Regions from separate parts of the Homo sapiens genome. Here region 2 is linked to region 1. The links come from fine-mapping of genetic effects on gene expression. A gene starts in region 1. The other region holds a variant in brackets. All regions are shown on one strand. Distances are between the middles of the regions.

Region 1 (10,997 bases):
ATTCACCCTTCTCTTGGAATCTGAACATGCCTAAAATATCAATACCTTTTAAGACATTTTTCCTTGATACTGTATTCCCTTCCAGCCACTGCTCCATTTCTCCACTCCCCTTCAGAGTGAAACGCCTTACAAGAGTTGTCTGTAGAGCTGGGTGCGGTGGCTCACGCCTGTAATCCCAGCACTTTGGGAGGCGTGAGGACTGCTTCAGCGCAAGAGTTCGAGACCACCCCGGGTAACATGGCGAAACCCTGTCTCTATGAAAAAAAACAAAATTAGCCTAGCGTAGTGGTGCACACCTGTAGTCCTAGCTACTTGGGGGGCCGAGATGGGAGCCTGGGGCGGTCAAGGCTGCAGTGAGTCATGATCAAGTCACTGTACCCAGTCTGGGTGATAGAGTGAAAAAAAAAAAAAAAGCTCTCTGTAGTTGCTATTTCCTCTCCACCTCTCCTATTCTTTCTCCAACACCTCTGATTTGGCGTTCATCTCCACCCCTCCAATGAAATGGCACCTCTCAAGGCCACTAATTAATTACAAGTAACCAAACTCAATAGCCTCTTCTCAGTGCTTATCTTCCTCTCAGAAGCACTTGACCAAGTTGACTTCTCCCCAGTTCTGGAAACATCTCCTGGCTTGCACCATACTACACTCTTCTGATTCTCCTTCTAGCTTTCTGGCTGTCCTTTCTCAGCCTTTCTCCTTCCCTGTGAAGCTTTCAAAGTTGGACTGCCCTGGGCTAAGTCCTGGCCTCCTTTTCTTTACTAGCTTCACTGTGTCTAGCTCCAAGGCTTCACAAACTGTCTCTACGCTTAGGTCTCACATTCACATCTCCAGCCTGGACCTCTCAACTCACACATGTAATTATGTAAGACACATCAGGTATCTCAAACTTAACATGGCTCAAATATAAAACTATTGATTCCATTCCCTCCACAAGAAAATATTCACTCTCCCACTAGCCTTCCCCATTTCTACAAATGGTAATACATTCTACCAGTTATTATTATTACTATTATTTTGAGATGAAGTCTCACTCTTGTTGCCCACGCTGGAGTGCAATGGCGCGATCTTGGCTAACTGCAACCTCTGCCTCCCGGATCCAAGCATTTCTCCTGCCTCAGCCTCCCAAGTAGCTGGGATTACAGGCGCCTGCCACCACGCCTGGCTAATTTTTGTATTTTTAGTAGAGACGGGGTTTCACCATGTTGGCCAGGCTGGTCTCGAACTCCTGACCTCAGGCGATCTGCCCGCCTCGGCCTCCCAAAGTGCTGGGATTACAGGCGTGAGCCACCGTGCCCAGCCACAGTCTACAAGTTATTTAAGCTTTTCAAGCAAAAACAACAAACTAGGAGTCATCCTAAATTATTTTTTTTTTCCACAACCTGTACCCAATCAAATCAGTTAAGTCTTGGCAATCCTATTTCCAAAATGCATTCAGAATCTAACCACTTCTCACCGTCTCTACAGCTACCTCCCTAGTCCTAGCCACCATCACCAGTCACAGTGTCTAACTGGTTTACTAGCCACCAGACTTGCTTCCAGAGTGACTCTTCCAAAGTGTACATCAGATCATGTTGCCCCTGCAAGAAGCCCCCCAGCCTGTCTCAGGGCAACAGGAAGCAGCTGTCCAAGGATGAAATAGCAAGCAGATTACGCAGGGGAATGAGGATCAGGTGACAAGGATATACAGGTGGTGTGAAGGCACTCTCAAAGGAAGAGAAAAAAGAGTAAGTTTTACTTTTAGGCTTCCTCTCCCTTTCAAACTCCCCTAGGCCTGAGCAATACTAAAGGGAGATAGATGCATAATGCAGCTGATGCCGCTAGTGACCGACCCACAGCTACTTTGCCCTCCCCAGAGGACCTCTGTCAACATTCCTGTGCACATCATAGGCTTTTTGCATCTCTCTACCTGGCCCTGGGTGCATGCTGGGACTACATGTGGGGCAAGACCCAGAAGCCATGGAGTTCATGCTCCAGGTGCTACCTTCCATCTGTGGGAAGAAGAAGCTGGTGCATAAATACTCCAGCTTCTTTAATCATTAGTGGAACACATTTGAGGTGTGTGCTCAGAGGGTCGCCAGCTGGATTGAACCCCAGTTGCCCACAGGGCTAACCAGCTTACATGGTGTACTGGCTTTCCTCTTTCCTCCCTTTCCTGTCTCACTTCCCTACCCCCTCTCTGTGCTTCCAGGGAACCCTTCCCAAATAAGTTAATTGCATCGAAATCCTTGTCTCAGGCTCTGCATTCTAGGAAACCTAAACCAAGACACATAATAGTGTGTTTTTTCTCCCAAAGGTAATGCCTTTTATGACATCAAACAAAAACAATGCCATCCCAAATTTAAATGAACAAGAGAAGAGAGAGATCTGGACATAAAGTGTGGAGATAGCATTTTAGAAAATAAAATTTAAAATAATATGAGATTTTAAATCTATCCCAGGTAGAAATCAGCCCCATCTTTATTATTCATGTACAAATATGTATAGAGTATATATTCACCAACTATATGCACACACTCAAGATCCTCTCTTATCTCTACTAACTATTAGTTTGTACCCCAAACAGTTAAAAGGACTTGAAAGAACTCTGACACGTTCCAGGTACATAACTGCCCACTGCTGCATCTAAAGAGAGAAAGAAGTGGGCACATTCTGCTCTGGCAGTGAGTTTCATTCGCGTGAAATCTAACTTAAGGAGAGGTGTGTCTCACACACACACACACACACACACACACGGGAAATGTATGCACCACTCAACAGTCTGCAAAACTTCCCTCCAGTTCTTTTGAAGTGAAATCACCACTCCCACAACCGCACTCCCCAGATACCTGCGCTGTTGAAAGTGAAGGGCCTGTCCCTGCTGTGTGGTTTGGGGTAAAAAGGAGGCAGGATTAAAGCGCTCATTTCAAGTCCCAAAAGTAAAATACGACTTGGCCTACGGCAGTCCTAATTCTTTCCAGAACTCATCCCCGGAATTGCCCTTTTAAACAACCAGTCATTAACCCAACTCCGGGTCTTTTATAGCTGCGAAAACCGATCGAGCACATCATTTATTCATTACGCTTATTACTATTGTTATTGCAGAAAAGCAGTGAATTCCCGGGACGGGGTTCAAAGGGTTTTTCGGAGGAGGAGGGGAAGAGGGAGAGAACACGCGGGCGGGCAGGGACCGCTGGGAGGCTGAGCTGGGCTGTGGGGCAGAGGTGCCCGGAAATCCCCAGGGAAGGATGCCTCCAAAGCGCCTCCGCCCCGCGCGCTCCTAGGCCACTGCGCACCGGCGCAGCTGCGGCAGCAACCTAGGAAGCTTCTTACGTAAGTCAGAGCCGCTGACATCACCTTCGCCGCGAGCGTCGCAGCCTGACTAGGCGCCAAAGGACCGTCGCGCCAACCCAGCGCCCCTGTCTACCTCCTGGGTCGTTCCTAAATGATTCTGCCGTCGCCAGATTTGGACGATCCGGAGCCAAGGGGACCGCCCTTGGAAGGGAGATGACATAGAATGACTATTTATTGGGAGCCCTTGGGTGTCGTAAAAGCGAAGTCAACGGACAGCAAAGACGCCCAGGGGTCTCCCAGACTTCCTTCCTCGTCGTTTCCCTGCAGCCCGCCTAGCAGACTAGTTCATACCTAAGTCCACGTGCCAGTAAATTTGGGCGACAGTGCACCGGGGAGGAGGAAGATAGTCTGTGGGATCCTCTGCGGGCAGATGGCACAGAGCCATTTAGTAGGAACCCTGGGCTGTTCAGAGCAGAAAAGATGCCCAGGGGTCTCCTCCATCTCCCCGGGGCCCCTGACACTCCCACCCTCATCTCTCCCTGACCCTCCCCGCGGCCCCTCCGGGCCACAAGGGTTTTCGGCAGAAGCACTACGAAGTTCAGTCTAGGAGGCGAGCAGCGCCACGCTACGTCGCACACGAGGGCAAGGCACAAGTTCGGAGCTCGGGGCAGCACCTGAGGTCACAGCGAGTGACGAAACAGCCGCGGTGCTGCAGCAGTCTCAAAAGAACACTCACTACTCCTGGAACCCCCAACCCTGAACATGCATGGTGTGGGCTACAGGGCTCAGGGCTGGGCTTCTGGAAACCACAGGAGTTGCAACCCTCCTCCCTACGCCCCGTGAAGGACGTGAAAGGCGAGCCCCGGTGGTGAAGGACAGACCCTCTCTGCCTCCTGTGCTCCCCATAAACGCTCCCTTTCTGCTCCTTCTCAGCCCACGCTGCCTGCGACTTCAGAGGTCGCCCTTTTAACTTTCCACCGTCCACGTCTGCATCACTGAATCGGGGTCCAGCCCAGCCACTCAGCCCCAGGAGGATTGGGGTGGGTCCCAGGGGATGGGAAGGGTGGGAAGGCGAGAGTAGTAAGGTGCAAGCTGCAACCGGAGCGGCGCCGCGGGGCTGGGATTGCCGCTGCTGGGGAGGGCGCGAGGGTGCGGCGCAGAAACCCATAGCCTGGCGGGCGGACGGCGCGGGTACTCACGCACTGCCTCCTGCTTAGGGTCAAGCGTGCTGAGGACGCGCTGCACGCCGCCGAGCTTGCCCTGCAGCGCCCAGACGCGGCGGTGGGTGAGCTGGATGTCGCTCTCGAGCTCCTGGAAGAGGCTGCAAGCGTGCCGGGCCACGTCCGAGAGCTGCCGGAGGACACGGGCCAGAGCGGCGTTGCTGACCGCGCATAGGTCCAGCATGAGCAGCACGGCCGCCGCCGCCGCCGCCGAGGACGCCTCGCCGGCTGCGGGCGCCGCCTCCGGGATCCCCGCCGTGCTCTCCTCGCCAGCCACGGACGCCTCTCCGTGCGGCGGCTGAGTCTGGTCGGCCGGCGCGGGCAGTGGCGGCGGCGGCGGTGGCAGCCCTGAAGGTGCAGGGACGGCGCGGGCTGGCTCCTCTGGCCCTGGCGCCTCGACCTCGTCCAGGTCCCTCCGGCCCGGCGGCTGCAAGGGCGGCGGCGGCTCAGCGCTGCCTCCGCTCGCGTCCACTGCTGGGCCGGGCGCAGGGCGCCGCTGCCTGCACAGCCATTGCGGCTCCACGATCCGCTTGGCGAAAGGCATCCCGCGCAGCCAGGCGGCGACTTTCTGGTCTCCTCCAAGCGCCCCTGTGAGCTGGAGACCGGGCGCGCCCACCTGAGCAGGGAGGGGGCAGGAGTCCGGCAAAAGCGCGATCTGGCAGTCCGGATACGCAGGGGGCTTCTCTGCTCACCTTGCCTCCTCTTCCCCGCCCTCTCCCTAGCAAATCAGTCCAGCCAGTCCTCCTTTGGGTGCACCGTTCCCTGGGGAGGATGACAAGCGCTCCGCACAGAAATTTAGGGGTGCGCCTGGTCTCTTCTCACTTGCTTCCAACCAGGGTCGACTGGCTCAACTCCATCGTTTCTGTGCTCGCCGTCGCCACCCCGGCCACTGCCGTCGCCGCCGCCTATATAAATGGGCGTGCGTGTGTCTGTGTGTGTGTGGGTGAGTGGGTGGGTGGGTGTGAGTGTGTGCGCGCGCCTCAGTTTGAAAGTACCCCGGCGCAGGCCTCTCCCCGCGCGCCCCTCGGCCGCTCCGGGGAGCGATTGCGCCCGGGATCTCTCTCCCTGGCTGGGCGGGGAGGAGGTTTCGGAAAGGCGCTCTGAAAACCCGGAGAGAGGAATCTGCCTCCAGCCCGGGCGCAGGAGGCCGCGCGGGGGTGACGGGGCGGACGCAGGGCGGGGGAGGCCGGGGCGAGGGGGGCGCAGCGCCCTGTGCGGCCGCTGGGAGTCACTGGTGGCCTCGCCGTGCTGGGCGCGTTCAGGCGCAAAGACACTTCCTCACATCCAAGGGGTTGGAATTGAGACTGTCAGCGTGGTGGGGGCGGGGAGTCCTCAAGTTGGGAGTAGGGGTGTGGGCAGTAAGCGCAGAGGGAAGAGGGTGGGGTATTGAGGATGCGGCAGATTTGGCGTGTTGGAGCAAGTTTTTCGCCGAATTCCAGCTCTGTACAAGACCTTTGGGTTCTTACAGGGAAAACTGGGCTGCTCCTTGGAGATCCCCGGGCTCTATGAACGCAAGGAGACAACTGGGGAGGGCAAAGGGCGTAGGCGCATCTCCATGTGGCCAGAGCAGCCAGAGTGCTGTTTATACCCCTTCCCAGGCATCACGTGGCCCCCTGTTTTGGGCACGGGCTCTATAGAATATCGTGAATGAGACCCAAACCACCAATGAGCAAAATCCCCAGAAAACTGCTTACGAAACTCATTGCACGTTGGGTGAGATAAACGGCATTACCTCCTCGTCACCCTACTGTGCTGATCATACACAGGATTTTTAAAGTTCTCCATCAGAGAGATGATGATTTACAGAAGAAGGGAAAGTTTTCCCCTTCAGTTAACTGAAAGGTATAATTTCTAAAAAGGCATGCATTTTCGATTGCAGCAGGCTGCAGGCTGTATGCCGTCAGTAAAAAGAGTTTGGGAAATGTTAATAAAACACGTGCTTTCATGCCTCCAAAAAGTATACTGTAAAAATATTTTTTATTTTAAAGCCACAAGCCAGATCTTGGGAATGCAGCCTCTTTTCGTGTTTCTAAAGAGAACATGGAAAAAATATGTTTTATGGCAACAATAAAGTCCTCCAGACCTGCGGTGGTGTCTCCTCTCCTCCCTCTAAAGGCGGGAGAGGGAGGAGGCTCCAACAGTCAGCACTTTGGACTGGCCCACGCTTTGGTTTTAAAGGCTTCAACAGACCCTTGTCTTATTCTACAAAACAAAAAAAAAAAAACAAAAAAAAACCAAAATTTTCGGCAAGGACATATCCTTGTTCATAAAAGATCCAGGCTGAGGCTTTGGGGGTAAAGGGCCATGATGTCTGCAAAGTACACATAAATGTTTCAGTAACAACAAGAAGAAGAATGATGATAATAAAGATGTGTATGTATGAAGGGAGAAAAAAACAAAATATGGCAAAATGTTCAAAATAGTCTAGGTTAAGGGCATATCAGGGTTCATTGTACATTTCTTGCAACTTTAAATTTGGTTTTGTTTCCAAATAAAAAATGAAAGAAAAGAATATTTTGGAACAAGGTCTTTTAAGGTTTGTTTTTTATCTCACAAATCTGAAAAGCGTTGAGCTAGCTGTTTTTAAATTGAGCTTGACTTTTTAATACGTTCAAAATTCTGAACATGAGTTCTGCTGGGTAGGCAAGCCAGACACTTCTCCCTAAACACATGGAAGCATGGAGAACAATGAGGGATATTAAAGGCATCTGGTTAGCAAGCCTTGTGGCAACAGGCTGCCCTGCCTCTCACTCTCCCTTACCTAGCACTGTCCTATTAATAGCAAGGGTGCCAGTGGAGCGGGCCCATCTGAGCATTGACAGGGGCAATGAATAAGTGGTGTGGGACTCTCACTCCTAAAGGGAGTTTCAGATTATTGGCAAGTTCCTTCCAGGGCTCCCAAAATAAGTGATCAGAAAGGAAGGGCAAAGGCCCAGGAGAGAAAGGGTTCAAGGGGGTAATTAAGCTAAAAAACAGGCCAGCTACCTTAGTGTCTGCCCCCAAGTGATCAGCTCAGATTCAAGCCGAGATTTCAAAATGATTCAAAGCACAGTTCAAGGATGCAAAAAGGAGTGCCCTCTTTGTAATCTCCTTGACTCTGACTTGTGTGCTAATAAAGCCCTTTGGTTAAAATTTTAAAAACCTTTAATTTTGGCTTTTGATCTCCTTCATTCTCGCTGTCCCCTCCCCTTCCTTTGGTGGTGGTCCCCAGTGACCTTTCCAAGAGCACATTACGTTTTTGTTTTTGTTTTTGTTTTTGTTTTTGTTTTTGTTTTATTTGGGGAGAAAGACACCCTCCTTCAAAGTCACCAAAACCAAACCTAATACAAATGATCATATTCATTGATATGGTTGGTTGATGTTTTCCCAGTCCTCTGTAAGATATGAATAAAGGTATCTTTAGAAAATGTAACGATTGTTTTACATTAGTGACACCATCTAAATAAAAAACTGCTAGCTTTGGGAAGGCAGCTTCAAGACAGCCTGCTGGCCCCATCCTACCCTTTTCCCAACTCAAGTCCCTCCCATGTGAATTACCCCCACACACACACCCCTACACACATTTTTGGGTTTTATTCCTGCTTTCTAGAACTAAAATACTGAAATTTTAAAAAGGGTAGCAACACATGTAATCCTGACAGGACATGTGAATAGTCTTAAGCTGATGAGTTTTCAGCATACGTGGGAGCTGTGTCTTTCTTGTTTAAATCCTGAATTGTGACATTTTACTCCAAATTTTCCCACAAAAAGTTCTGATGAAGTCAAGGTTGCTTTCTAAAGCCAGGTTGTTACACCTGATTGTTACACCAGATTGTTATGTGTGTGTTGATCTCTCCCAATCACACCGCCTCCCCACTATTCATGTACACATGTTTATTTACCGTGCACTTGTAGCCAAAATAGAAGGGAAAGGAAACATTTTTAAATGGCCCCATCGCCTAATTCCCAGCAGTCATTCATGCAGCTCAAAGGCCAGCACAATTCGCCCATAAATTCAAATGTTTAGTCAGTATAAACTGTATGCCATTGTAAAATGAATGAAAGATCCTGTCTGTGTCACCACGCCCCACAGTTACATTCTTGCCTGCTCCAGCCCAGAAGGAAGAAGGGCTTTGCTGAACTTGAAGATTGGCATTGAGAGCACCGTGAAGCGCCACTGTCCTCAACCTGGCTGTCCTCATGCCTCCACGGAACCCTAGTCAGGCTTCCTATAGAACCTCACAAGCGGCAAAGCAGAGATTCCTAAAACACTCTTCGCTAAAAATGTTCTGATTTGAATATCCTACCATTATTTATACTTGAAAATATTTCTTTTGGCTAAGAAATGCCAGGAGATACACGGGGCACATTAGCATAATCATTGAATTATAGTGACTGAAGTGTCTTTTCCTCCACCTAATTGAACCTATTCCTCATTTAATCAATGTAATCTACTCCTAAAAAGTCCTGCCACTAAGTAAAAACCTGTTAAATAAAAAATATTTGCATTAATTTTATTGGAAAAAATTATGAGCATTCCATCCCAACTTAAGTTACTTAAACCATTTCACAGATAGAAAACTATAGCAAGTTTACATAGGTGAAGGGCTACAATTTGAAAGTAAATAAATATAGTTTGTACATAAAATGCAATGTTATAATATCTCATGAAGGAAGAAGAGCAGATTTGAAATTGGGTGGTGAGGAGTGGAGGAGGGTGAGGTTGTCATTCTTGGGAAATCGTTGGAGAGTCATGTGGTTCACAATGAAGCAGAAAACTTTTTCGAGCTCATGGCTATACTACACTTAAACTGCACTTACAAATAAAGTTACAGTACAGAACAACACCTTAAGGGAAAAATAAAGGATAAACTTCAGAGAGCCTTAAAACATATGGAAAGAGCTCATACACATAGCCGACTGAAGGGTCACAGAAAGATGTTACTCACTCCTCTCTCTCCCACACCAGGAGGCCACCATTGTCAGGCTTTCCAAGAGTTTCTGCAAAGTTTAATGTTAGTTGCTGAGCTCTGAGAGTCCCCAAATCCCTCTTTCCTTTAGTTTTGCTGGCTCATGGGAGGAAGTTCACAGCCCATGGTGGTATGCCATCTTGAATGAGGAAGCATGCATTCTTCCATATGTGTGGTTTATGATGTCCAAAGCCTTCATAGCTTACTTTTTGCAACTCTAAAGTCCAAGTTCTTCCAGTTCAGGAACTTTGAATGTGGCTTTGTGTACAGGTATTCCCATGAAACACTGGGAGAGAAACATATTCATTAATACATCAAAATATTAATCCACCATACACATAAATATATTTACACATATATTGATAACTACCATATGTATAGTTTCGAGGGAGAAAAAAGACTATATACTACCATTGAAGGTTTTCCCTTGTTTCAGCTTGTGCTTTTCTTCCTTAAAAATCTTCATTTAGTCTATCAAGTGTGAAGGACAGGGGTTTCTCTCTGCATTTTATTGATAGGAAAACATGGGCAGAAAAAATAATGCTATTAAAATGGTTTTCCCAAAATGCCAAAGACTGTGAATACAAAGACTATGCCAACCAGCCTTTTTATCTTCCTTTGCAGAGAACTGTTGATTACTCACATTGTTTCCTGTGGGAGAAATTCTTACTTCTTTCTAATCTTCAAAAATCCTAGCCTCACATTTTACAACTGAATATAATTTTAAACATGCCAAATCTGGATTTAGTCAGAACTGCAAATACGTAACTCAAAATAACTGACAGAATTAAAGCAGATGGTGATAGCAAACAACAATGGAGTTTCATTCACTTATTCGTTCCTTTGGTGATGTAACAAACATTGACCGGATGCTTCCATTTACTGAGTGCAAACATTTATTGGGTGCTTAGGCCTCTGTGAGCTGCCAGAGATATAAAAGGAAAGAAGACATAAACATTGCTCTCAAAGGGTGTTGTCTAGTGGGGTAGACAGACACGTAAACAAATAATTGTAGTGCAACGCCAGGCAAGCTATAATAGAGATAAGAATTAAGTGCTATTCAGAATCCCAGAGCGATTAACACTGTCTTGGGGGAACATAGACTGGAGCAGGGATTCTAAAGACAACGCAAGCTTCGGCGCTGGTTCTCACAGGTTAGAAACGGAAAGACCAAAGCCAAGACGAGGCAGCGCTACATGGTTAAAAACAAAACAGTGGCTAAAATTAAGACACCCTCCAACCAGCTGCAGGAGAAAATGTGCTTTTGACTATAATCATTAAATGGCATTCCCAACAAGTCTTTTAAAAACCCTGAAAACCAGGCGGTAGGAGAAATAATGTGGAAATTATGTTGGTTTTTTTCTCTTAAAAAATAGCTGATTTATAATTTTCACTCTTTGGCAGGGCTCAGTTTATAAAGAGGAAGTGGAAGATTTTTAATATATTTCCTATGAAGAAAAGTCTTCAATTAGGTAGGATGAACCACAGTCTCTAGGGCATAGGGTGCTAATAAAGCTAAACGGCCATTCTCCAGGAGTTCATAAGCTCCCCCCACTTT
Region 2 (10,997 bases), 150 kb before region 1:
AACCTCATAGTGCAGGCCATGAAAGCAAGACTTAGAGAGGCTGTGGGGGCTGCCCAAGGTCATGGGACCCAAAGGGCTGTGTCAGGAAGCAAACTCAGTTCTCCAAGACCCAAGACCATGCCTATGACCCCAGCCCTGTCCATCTTCCTAGCAGGAGTCATCACTTTGTGCTCAGTACTTGAAAGTGATTATTCCCTGATTGCTTTAAAAGTCATAATTTTAAAAGTCAACAAGGCCAGGGCCAGTGGTTCACACCTGTAATCCCAGCACTTTGAGAAGCAGAGGCAGGTGGACTGCTTGAGCTCCGGAGTTCAAGACCTGGGTAACATACAGAGACCCTGTCTCTATAGAAAAAATACAAAAATTAGCCAGGCGTGGTGGTGCATGCCTGTAATCCCAGCTACTTGGGAGGCTGAGGCAGGAGGATCACTTGAGCCTGGGAGGTCGAGGCTACAGTGAGCCATGATCGTGTCATCGCACTCCAGCCTGGGTGACAGAGCAAAACCCTGTCTCACTCAAAAAAATAAAAATCAACGAGCAACCTTACAAAAAAAGGTTGCCGAAAAATCTGTAAAGGACTTAAGCACACAGACTCACACACTGGAGACGATTCCATATAGAGCCATGCCAATGACTTTCACTTCTCTAAGAGCTTTGGCCCTCTCCCATGTCTTTGCTGCCCCCACACTCCTGTGTGGTGGGCGGGGCAGACACTTGCCAGCAACTTACTGGCCTTTTCTGGTGATGGTTGTTGTTCATTATAGAAAAATCCACGTAGGTCTTTGGTAGGCCCTGCTCTGCAGAGCTAATACTCATCATAACAATAGATTCAGCATCTCTATACTACAGGCATTGTGCTGAATGCCTCACACTCAGGATTTTATTTATTCCTCCCCATGGCTCTACTGGTAGAAGCTATTATACCCATTTCATAGATGAGAAACTAAGGCTCAGATAAGTTAAGAAAAGGGCCCAAGTTGCCCACCAGTAAGTGGCCGGGCCAGGGTTTGAACCCAGGTTAGTGCAAAGCGGAAGCCATTTCTATGTAAATGAATCAATCCATCGAGGCACACTTCTTTAGCCCTGATTATATGCCAGTTAGTTTACTCCAGAACCCCAGCCCTAGCCCCTGCCTTGGTCTGGGCTTTCTTCCAATAATGTTGGCATTTTCACTGAAGGGCCAAGATCTCATCCCTTCCTGGGAGACATTCTATAGACCATATCTCATGGTGACGTCTCAGGCTCTCTGAATTTGCTCTTGTCTTTGTAAAGGAGGAAGCCTTCAAATGCACAGTGAGGGGAGCACTGAGGTTGATACGAAACTCAAGGCACACTTCTGGTGCCATCGTCCATACTGTTACTGAATTCTTTACTGCTAGGAAGGTCTCCAGGGACCAGCCATCTGCTTTTCCTCCCTTCAAGGGCAGGGACTATATCATTCATCTTTGTTTCCTGGGGCTCCGGTCCAGTGCCTGGCATATAATCAGGGCTAAAGAAGTGTGCCTCGATGGATTGATTCATTTACATAGAAATGGCTTCCGCTTTGCACTAATTAAAACCAGAGCAAAGAAGTCTTCCTGACCTCGAGGGCCAATTCATGCTACCAATTATCTAGACATTCAGAGCTGAATTCTTATATATTTAAAACAATTTTAAAAAGTTTTCATTTTCCAGTGTCATATTTTAGGAGTCTATGTGGGGTGTGAACCACTGCATGGAGCTGCAAAGGATCCCACTGGCTTCACCAACAAATATTTGTTGGGTGCATTCTAGATACCAGCTCCTGGGGAGACAAGAATCAACACAAATGAATGGGTCCTCACTCCATGAAACTTACAGTCTAGCAGGAGAGACACGCATTAATCCAATTGTCACACTTTGGATATATAACTGCATAGGGCAAAAAGCACTATGAGGATAAGAAGGAGGGTCAACAACAAAGGAATCTCACTGGCTGGAGAAGGTCAGAGAAAGCCTCCCTGGGGAAGCTTGAGGGGCCATTGGCAGGATGCTGAGGCACTAAGCAGGTGAGGTGGGGCTGGAGAAAGCACCTCAGCTTGTGCAAAGGCCCTGTGGGGGCCTGAAAATAGGCCAGCGTGGCTGCAGCACAAAGCCAAGGGAGGGCAGCAGAGAGAAAGACAGAAGCATAGCCAGGGCCCACCCTAGAGGCCTTCAGGGCCATGCTCAGGATTGTAGGCTACGACCAATGGTGTCACAGAAAGAGCTGAAGCAGTGGCAGAGGAGGAGGGGGGAATAATGGTGCGGGAAACTTTGAATAGGTCACTTGGACTTGATAGTAGAAAAGAGACTGGACAAATGCAAGAGAGGCTACAAGGAGACCTCCAAAGACAGCTGCAGGAGAAGATGGGGCTTAGACCACAGGGGTGGTAGTTAGGGTAGAGGGCAGAAGAGGGATCTGAGAGACACTGGGCAGTGAAATGAATGATCCTGGTGATGGATTAGGGGGACAGTGAGGGAGGGGGAGGCCCACTTCCAGCTTGCAATCTAACTGGGAAGGCTGGGGCACCAGGGGAAGAACTGGGGGGCCACTGAAGGGGGATGAGAAAGCTCAGAGTGGCCAGGAAAGGAAAGTGTGGGTTTGGATTCACAGCTAGGAAATGGGGGAGGTTTATAAGGGGGAGGTACTGGCCTCTCCAAAAGGAGGAAGGGGAAGGGAATTAAAAGCATGAGGCAGGGGGCAAGGGTAGCCTGGCTGGTGCGAGGGTTTCCATGGAGAGAGAAATAAAGGCTGCCAGAAGGGCCAGGGTTCCTCGAGAGCAGCTATTCCCAATGTGTGCTCCTCCACCTCACCAGAAGCATGGGCATCACCAGGGAACCTGTTTGAAATGCAGATTTGGCTGGCAGGGTGGCTCCCGCCTGAAATTCCAGCACTTTGGGAGGTTGAGGCAGGGGAATCACTTGAGGCCAGCAGTTCAAGACCAGCCTAGGAATTTGAGGCTGCAGTGAGCTATGATTGTGCCACGGTACCCAAACCTGGGCGGCAGAGTGAGACCTTGTCTGAAAAAAAAAGAAAAAAGGATGAAATGCAGATTCTCTGGCCCTGACCCAAACCTGATAGATTCAAAACTCTGAGAGTAAGGCTGAGCAATCTGTGTTTTAATAGGATTGTTGAAACAAATTCCAATATATGCTCAAATTTGATAACCACTGCCCTGGACCAGCGCTTCTGAAACATTAATGTGCGTCTGAATCACCTGGGGATCATGTTAAACAGCAAATTCAGATTCAGTCGGTCAGCAGTGGAGCCCTGATTCTGCATCTCTAACCAGCTCCCAGGGGAGACGATACTGCTAGTCCAAGGACCACACTTTGAGTAGCAAGGGTCCAAATCATCCCTTCACCCCATTCTGAGAGGTTAAGGGACTATCCACCTGCTTGCTGGTGACAAATGGGGTCGGTAGCACTCAACATAAGCCAAAACATCCATCTCTCCAGAAACCTGAGAAATGTCATGCTCCTTAACTGAATTTCCTCCACATTAAAGTCCAGCACTGGCGTCTCTCTCGGCAGGGCTGAAAAACCTAATGGCAGATAGAAATAAGCCATTCCCATCCGGTGACCTGGCTGGAGAGGGAGAGGAGGGGAGGGGATTTAAATCCAGAGATCTCTGGACACGTTCACTGAAAGTCACTTTCAAGTTATTCTCGAGCTATTTTAAAATGATTAACCCCTTTCAGAGGGGAGTTTGACTAGCTTCAACTTGGAGTCAGTGCAGGGAAAGCATCTTTGTTCTTTCCTCTCTGTGGCCCAGAAATAGAGGGAAGAAAAAAGGAAACCCCCTTGGCTGCCACAGAAGAGCCTAAAGGACATGAAGCAGCCTGCACATCCAGAGAGTCTCCAAGCGAAGTGAAAGGCACATGTCAACAGGGGACACCAAAGGTAAAACAAACTCAAAAGACAGGATGCAGTTGGTTTTAGCTGACATCCCTTCCTATGAACTCCACACTGTCATACCCTAAACACGAAATCTCCTTCTAAGAATGAAACTTAAAATCTGCCTCTCAGGATGAATTGAATCCTGAATGCCCCTCCATGCTTTTTAAGAGCTACTATGAACTGATTTTTTTCTCTTTTCTTTAAGGGAAAATGTGCAAAGTGGCAAGAATTGAATACATAATTCAAAGACTTTGAGTTGGAGTCTGTGTGGACTCTGGGCAGTACGGTCTCATTTCTGTTTTCTGCTGTTGTCTGCACTGGGAATGTGGAAGGAGAGCATTTTTTTTCCCCCTAGAAAAACAACGCGTCAGCTTTCTTTGTCGGCTTCAGTGACACTAAAGGCATTGCAGTGTTAGCCAAACTGGAGCCAACTGAAGCTTACACACTCCTGAGCAGGAACCAAATCATCGACTGGATCTGACACCTCTTCATTTTCCAACCCCTTCGCATTTCTCTTTTGATTGCTCTTCATATATGTACATGCACTTTTCTGTATTTCATATACATATACACACTGACATCTTACTAGCAATTTTTAGCTCCTTGACACATAATAAAGGCATCCATTCTCAGTGAAATCAGGCCTTCTGTTCAAAGTGTTTTCCCTAGAAAATATGGCAGCTTCTAATTAAATAACTCAATGAGCAGCAGGAAGGGATAATGTGAAATTTAGAGCAGCATTTCAGCTTATATAGCACCCTTCTTGACAAGCAGTACACAGTAGTTGACGGACTTCAGAAAACCAAGCTGTGCTACATTCTCACTGATGTGCTTGGAAAGAAAGGAGGGGAAGAAGGGAAGGAGGGAGGAAGAAAAAAGAAAGAAGGAAGGGAAGAAGGGAAGGAGGGAGGGAAAACAAAGAAAAAGAAGGAAGGGAGGGATGTCTAACACATCCCAGATATACACAGGGCAACACATCACCATTCCCTTGGCATCACCCAGCTGTCAATCTGGTATTTGTGAAAGTGCCCTGTGCTTACGAAAAAGGATAGTGGCCCAGGGCTGTCTAACCTTCCCAAATGACAGACCTAGAACACTCCAAGAGACCATATATTTATAAATATTTGAGAAATGGGGCATTCCCAGTATAACATATACTCACAGGGGTTGTCTTGCAGTGTGGGTGTCTTAATTTATTTTTCCTTCTTTTTTAAAGCCAGCAGCCATATCCTGAAGCCACACAGCGTGTTTGAAGAAGGGGTGAGTTAGCCAGCACTCCCAGAGAGATTTGGTTCCTCAGAAAAAGAGTCAAAGATGAGCAGCCATGAAGTTCCTCCATTGGTAAACCCAGCACAGCTGCCACCCAGAGCAAACCAGAATCAGGAGTTCTGTGATTATTTCTTAATGCTGACATGCACGACCCAGTTATTCACATGTAACTCAAGGATTCCAGAGTCAGTAGCATCCTTAAGGAAAAATTTTCTCCTTCTGTGAGTTTAGTTATTTAAGGGCAGGGGTGATGTAACCAATACTAGACACAAGAACAGTCCTCT[T/C]GAGGAAGAAGAGAGAGAGGGAGGAGCCATATCAGAAGCAGGAGCACCCTACCAGAAAGCAACCTGCTAGATCAGGGGCTCCTTGTGGTGGCACTGGTGACATTTGAGGCTGGATCATTCTCTGCTGTGGGGGCTGCACTGTGCATTGTAGGAGGTTTAGCAGCATCCTTCACTTCTCCTCACCAGATGCCCCTTTTCTCCAGTTGTGGCAACCAAAAATGTCTCCAGACATTGCCACATGTCCCCTGGGGGTGAGGGAAGAATCACCCTCCCCCACTGCCCTAGACAAAAGCCACAGAAAACAAGAGGAAGCGGTAGAAAAAGTCACCAGACACCAATTAATTTGGGGGTGGGGTTGGGAGCAGAAAGGGAAGAAAAGAATGTGGAGACATAAAGGAACATCTCACAGGTTTCAGCCAGGAAGATCAAACTCAACTTGCAGATAAGACAGTGGGTATAGTCGTGCAACCCACAGACTCGGCGTGATTATGGGTCCCTTTGAAGGGAGCAGCGCTTTTACAGGCAGGCCAAGGGGGCAGTGAAGCCTATTTAAAAAGGGAGCGGCTTGTAGTTTACCAGATATCTTATCAAACTTACTTTAAGAATTCAACGCAGGAAAAAAAATGCCACCCCTGAATGCTCCTTTCCTTAAACTTGGATACTAACAAAACTTCCTGTCAACACGTAGGAGCCTGAAGTGATTAAAGCAAAAGGGAGCACTCCCTCTATTGTGTCTGCTTCTAATCCTCAGAGAATTTTTCTTTTAGACACACATACAAACAACTTGGGATTTGTTGATGCTAACTGCAGAGGGGTTTACGCAAGGAGGGGCGGGGGCTGCTCAGACCACAAAATGAAAGGGGAAATAGAAGCAAAGAGAGAGAGGGCCTGAGAAAGTTTCCTTCCCCAGCTTCCAGTCAAGAGGGCTGGCACAGTGCTCAAGGGCATTTGGCGTCAGTCACTGGACTGCTCCCTGAAATGCCCTGAAGGGGCAGAGCCAGGGAAGCTGGCAGGGCCCTCTCTGCCTTTTTCACTTGGGAGCCCAAGTCAGCCAAAGAAAAGCTATGTGCCACCTTTATCATGCAACAAAAGCCACTGCAGAGCCCTCCAAGGCTCCAATGCACTTAATAAAGGCTAACTAAATAAACAAAGAACAAGTCCTGAGAACATAAAACTCTTCACACCTGGGTACCCTCTTTATTACAGACTCCAGTTTAGCAAGAACCCGGCAAGCTCTGACCTTACCTTGGAAACAAGCCCAACAGGGTGAACTGGTCACAGAAGGCAAAACTGGACACATCTTCCCACCTTCAACCCCCAGAGGAAAATGTCTGTTCTGTGCTCCAGACTATTTTTGCTGGGGGTATTTTATTTAAATTCCTTCACTTGATTATATGTTTTGCACAAGTATCTGAAGTTTTGTTCATTTTGTTGTCAAATGAATCTTCCTGCTTCACTTCTAAGTGAGGTTGAGGACCTCAAGTGACATATGCATTCATGATAATAATAACAGCAACATTTATAGAGCTCTTACTACATGCGAGTTCAAAGCACTTGAAATAGATTAGCTCATTAAATCTCAACTGAAGTCTTATTTTTACTTTCTGCAATTATAAATGATCTGTATCTCTTTTCCTCCTCCCCTACAAATTCTCCCAAACCCAGAAATGCGCATAGAAATAATAGCCAGTCACGTATTAGTTGATCTCTCTGCTAGATTGTCAAAATGGCTGCAATCATTCCCCTTTCGGTATCTCCCCATCCATTTGCAATGAGACCTTGTAAGCCCTCCCATCGAGAGGTGGAGTCTATTTCTCAAACCCTTGAATCTGGGTTTGGTTCTGTGACTTGCTTTGGCCAATGCAATTCAGAAGTGGCACTGTCTGAGTTCCAAGCCTGGATCTCGAAAGGCCTTGCGCACTTCTGCTCGCATGCTCAGAATTCCGTGATCACCATATGAACAAGCCCAGGCTGGCCTGCTAGACGATAAGAGGACACTGCCAGGGGGAACATCCCAGATGAGGCCAATCTAGATCAGCTAGGCCTCAGCTGACCTATCACTGATTGTGGACACATGCGCTAGCCCAGCTACAACCACCTGGCCTGGCCTAGCCCAGACTGGAACAACCACTGAGCTCAACCACAGACTAAGATATATGTTTGTTGTTCAGCGCCACTAAATTTTGGGGTAGTTTGTTTTCTAGCAAAGGTGTAACATTCAAAGCATTAACTATACTCTTTTAACCTTGTGATTCTCCAATATGGAGTTACAATATGCAATGTTTTTGAAACTTCTTTGACCATGAACTTAACTCTCCCTTTTCTCTCTTCTGTGTGTATACACACATGCACATTCCAAGGAACACACACACTAGGGAAAGGCTGCTCTAGATCACTCATCACAGGAGTAACTAGCATTGGTTCATCTGTAAGTTTTATGAAAAACAGCTGCTTTTCCTTCATGTCCGCTTATAGCTTTTGGTGCTGTTCTGAAAACATTAACCTTAATGGCAACTGTAACAACCAGTGTTATAACAACATATAAGAGCTGAGAAACCTCCCAAACATCCCCCATTAGTCCTTTGTTCTTACTATGGGCTATAAAGAGCTATTTAAAAAGACAAAAATCAAAACCAAGAACTTAATATTCTAGGCCCACTAAAACAATAATCAGAGGTTTCTCCCATAAAAACCCCTTCCACTGTAGTAAAAAAAAAAAAAAAAAAAAAGAAAAGAAAGAAAAAAGAAAACAAAAACAAAACAGTAAATTGCTGCAAAAAATAGACAAAAATGAACTGGCTAGAAACTGATTAAGGATTCGTTTTGAACCAAAATCAATAAAGAAAAAAACAAAATTCCAAGCAATGCCATTCACTGCTTTAACATTCCAAAAAGAACTCCCACACAAGTATTTTGAAACATTCCTGGAAATTCATGTTTTACTTAATTCATCTGCTTCCAATAGCTGGTTTTCCTTTTTAGTCCAACCATCCTTCTCAGAATTCAAACAATCTCTCTAATTTCATCCCTTTCTCTGGAGCAGGGTTCAGATGGTGAGAAGATATTATTATTGCTATCATCATGATCAGGTTTCTGTTGATCAACACTGTGTAAAAGAACCAGGTGCAATTTTCCAGCAGATGCCACAAAAATAAATGATAACATATGCAACCAACATCCTACCATTTTTTTGTAAAGTATTTAAAAACTTATTTGAAAGTTATCTAGTAAAAAATAAGTATTTCCAAAATGAGTTACTACATGTGTCAAAACATACACCCAACAGAACAGGACTGCTTCAAAAGAGCTGTCAGTCAGAGTCCAAGGAGGAAATCAAGGCCCTTCCTCCCTGTGAGCTCAGCTACTAAGATCGGCAGGCTTAGTATGCCTTCCCACCCAATCAAAGACTATTTTGGACTAACAAATATAGAAGGGATGATGGATGAAACCATTAGAGTAAATCATTATCCAGGCAAGAATCCTCAATGAATGCTAAAGCTAGGTGGAGAGAGTTTGATGAGGAATGGGATATTTACATAATGTCAAAATATCTTCCAACAAATTATATTTGTTCATTACAAAAGGAAAAAGAACAGCTACACAGACACCAGCTTAACTAATCAAATGTGACCTCACCAACAAGGGCCAAATGGACATCTGTGCCTCCTGATATGGTCCCCAGAGAACAAATCACTTACATGCCTATATAGCATTCCAACTGAAAAATGCCTAAATCCAAATGTAAATGTGAAGAAACATCAGAGAAACCAAAATTAAGGAACATTCTATAAAACAACTGGCTGGTATTCTTCAAAAATGTCAAGGCCACTGAAGACAAAGGAAGAGTTATGAACTGTTCTTGATTAACGGGGACAAAAGAGACAGGACAACTAAATGCAATGTGGGATCCAGGACTAGATTGTGAACCTTAAGAAAATTGTGATAAAGGGCATTATTGGGACACAGGTTACATAAAAGTATGAAATAAATATTATATTTTCTAAATTTGATAGCTGTACATATACAAGAGAATATTCTCATTCTTGGGAAATGCAAGGGGTAAAGGGAGTTTGATGACAGCTGCCTACTCCTAAATGGTTCAGCAAAAAAATTCACATATATATGAACATGAATTAGTGTGGGGGAGAGAAGGGATAAATGCAACAAAATATGAACAATTAGTGAATCTAGATAAAGGTATACAAGAGTTATTTACACTATTCTTGCACCTGTCCTGTAAGTTTTAATTATTTCAAAATAAAAAGTGAAACAAGCAAACATCACCAAATGCGGAGCTTGCTATGGGTGGATAAGGGTAAGGGCAAGACAAAATTGTACCCCCGAGTAGTCAATATGCAGCAGAGAGCCAGCTCTCTTCCCAGCTGCCCTTCATAGCACTGTCCAGAGTATTCCCCAGAATGGACCCCCTCTTAGCTTCTTTTGAGATGAAGCTTTTGTGACCACAGGCCCCTGGCACTCCAGGATGCTGCAGGCCTTGAAAGAAAACCAAAACCACTTCGGGCCATGGTTCAACTCTTTATGAACATTTTCTTCCTGCAGGTTTTCCACTGTGGTGGTTGGAGGTCTTATTTCTTTTGCCGGCACTGTTGGGAGAGAAAGACAAGACTGGGCTTTTATTGAGGTGTGAGGGACCTGGGAAGCCAAGAAACACAAGCAGGGACTCACAGGTTCCAAGATGAGCTTTTGGGGTATTTACTGGATGCCGCCCTATCTGTTTTCCCTCTTCTGTGTAGAGATCCATTGAGGTCAGCTCATCTGGGGAGACTGCCCCCACTACTGGCTCTGCCTCTGGACTGTCAGGAGCCTTGGGATGAGTCTCATGGCGGCTCTATGCCTCGGTTTCCTCATCTGCTCTGCTCAGTAGAGATAAGCAATCCTGCTGTGTCAGCCCTGCCATTTTTGGCAGCAGCAGAGATCAAGGCCTGGGGGGTGGGCCCTGGAAAGACATCCCTGGCAGGAAGACTGGGTCTCTGCCTCTCAAGTGGCACCTGCTGCTGAGTTTCCTAATTGCTGCTGTGTCCACCCAATCATGTGACTGTGTTGCTACCTCAGTTTCCATTCCAGCATTCCTGCATTCTGTCAGGCCTGAGTCCTGCCAGGCTCTAAGACTCAGCCTGATGGTGCCCTAGTTCTCTCCCTGCAGAGCCATCAGGCACTCTGTACTTCCCCACTACCACCCCTACTCACCATATTCCAGCTCCATGAGCACACATGCTAGACTCATGATACTTAGCGACAGAACTGCCTTGCTGACCATGGACAACTCCTCAAAAGACAGTCACCAATGTGAGTTTTTCTTCAAAGAGTCTTCCTTATCCATTTTTTTTTTCCTAGCAAGTGATGGACAATGTAACCTCAGAGACGACCTCTGACCTCCAACATAGAACCATACACCAGTGCAAACCTGACTTCTTGATGTAACTAGAGCAGGTACCAGGAAGAAGATGAATTAGAACTGCATGATGGAGCCACATCAGTTTCCCAACTGCAGTTACTGAAGGTGGCCTTGTTGGGTTCTCACATAAT

Alleles and levels. Alleles are on the strand shown, and positions count from the first base shown. SD is a standard deviation of normalised expression in the study named.
In carriers of allele T in region 2, the expression in whole blood of the gene that starts at base 5,592 in region 1 tends to be higher than with C alone (large effect, 0.78 SD a copy in GTEx).

The links. PIP is the estimated chance that this variant, and not a neighbour inherited with it, causes the effect.
Region 2: its variant is fine-mapped to the expression of NHS in whole blood (TOPMed, PIP above 0.99). The same link has a PIP of 0.9 or more in blood mononuclear cells and monocytes.

What each region holds. Positions count from the first base shown.
Region 1 is chrX:17,369,795-17,380,791 of GRCh38, reverse strand. It overlaps NHS (NHS actin remodeling regulator), which reads right to left and starts at 5,592. Exons shown (of 9, transcript NM_001291867.2): 1 at 4,470-5,592. The coding sequence starts at 5,034.
Region 2 is chrX:17,522,821-17,533,817 of GRCh38, reverse strand. The region is part of intron 1 of NHS (NHS actin remodeling regulator); the gene reads right to left. LOC101928389 (a long non-coding RNA gene) reads right to left here and starts at 5,383. Exons shown (of 2, transcript NR_135631.1): 1 at 5,060-5,383. The variant T/C (reference allele first, on the strand shown) is at 5,451.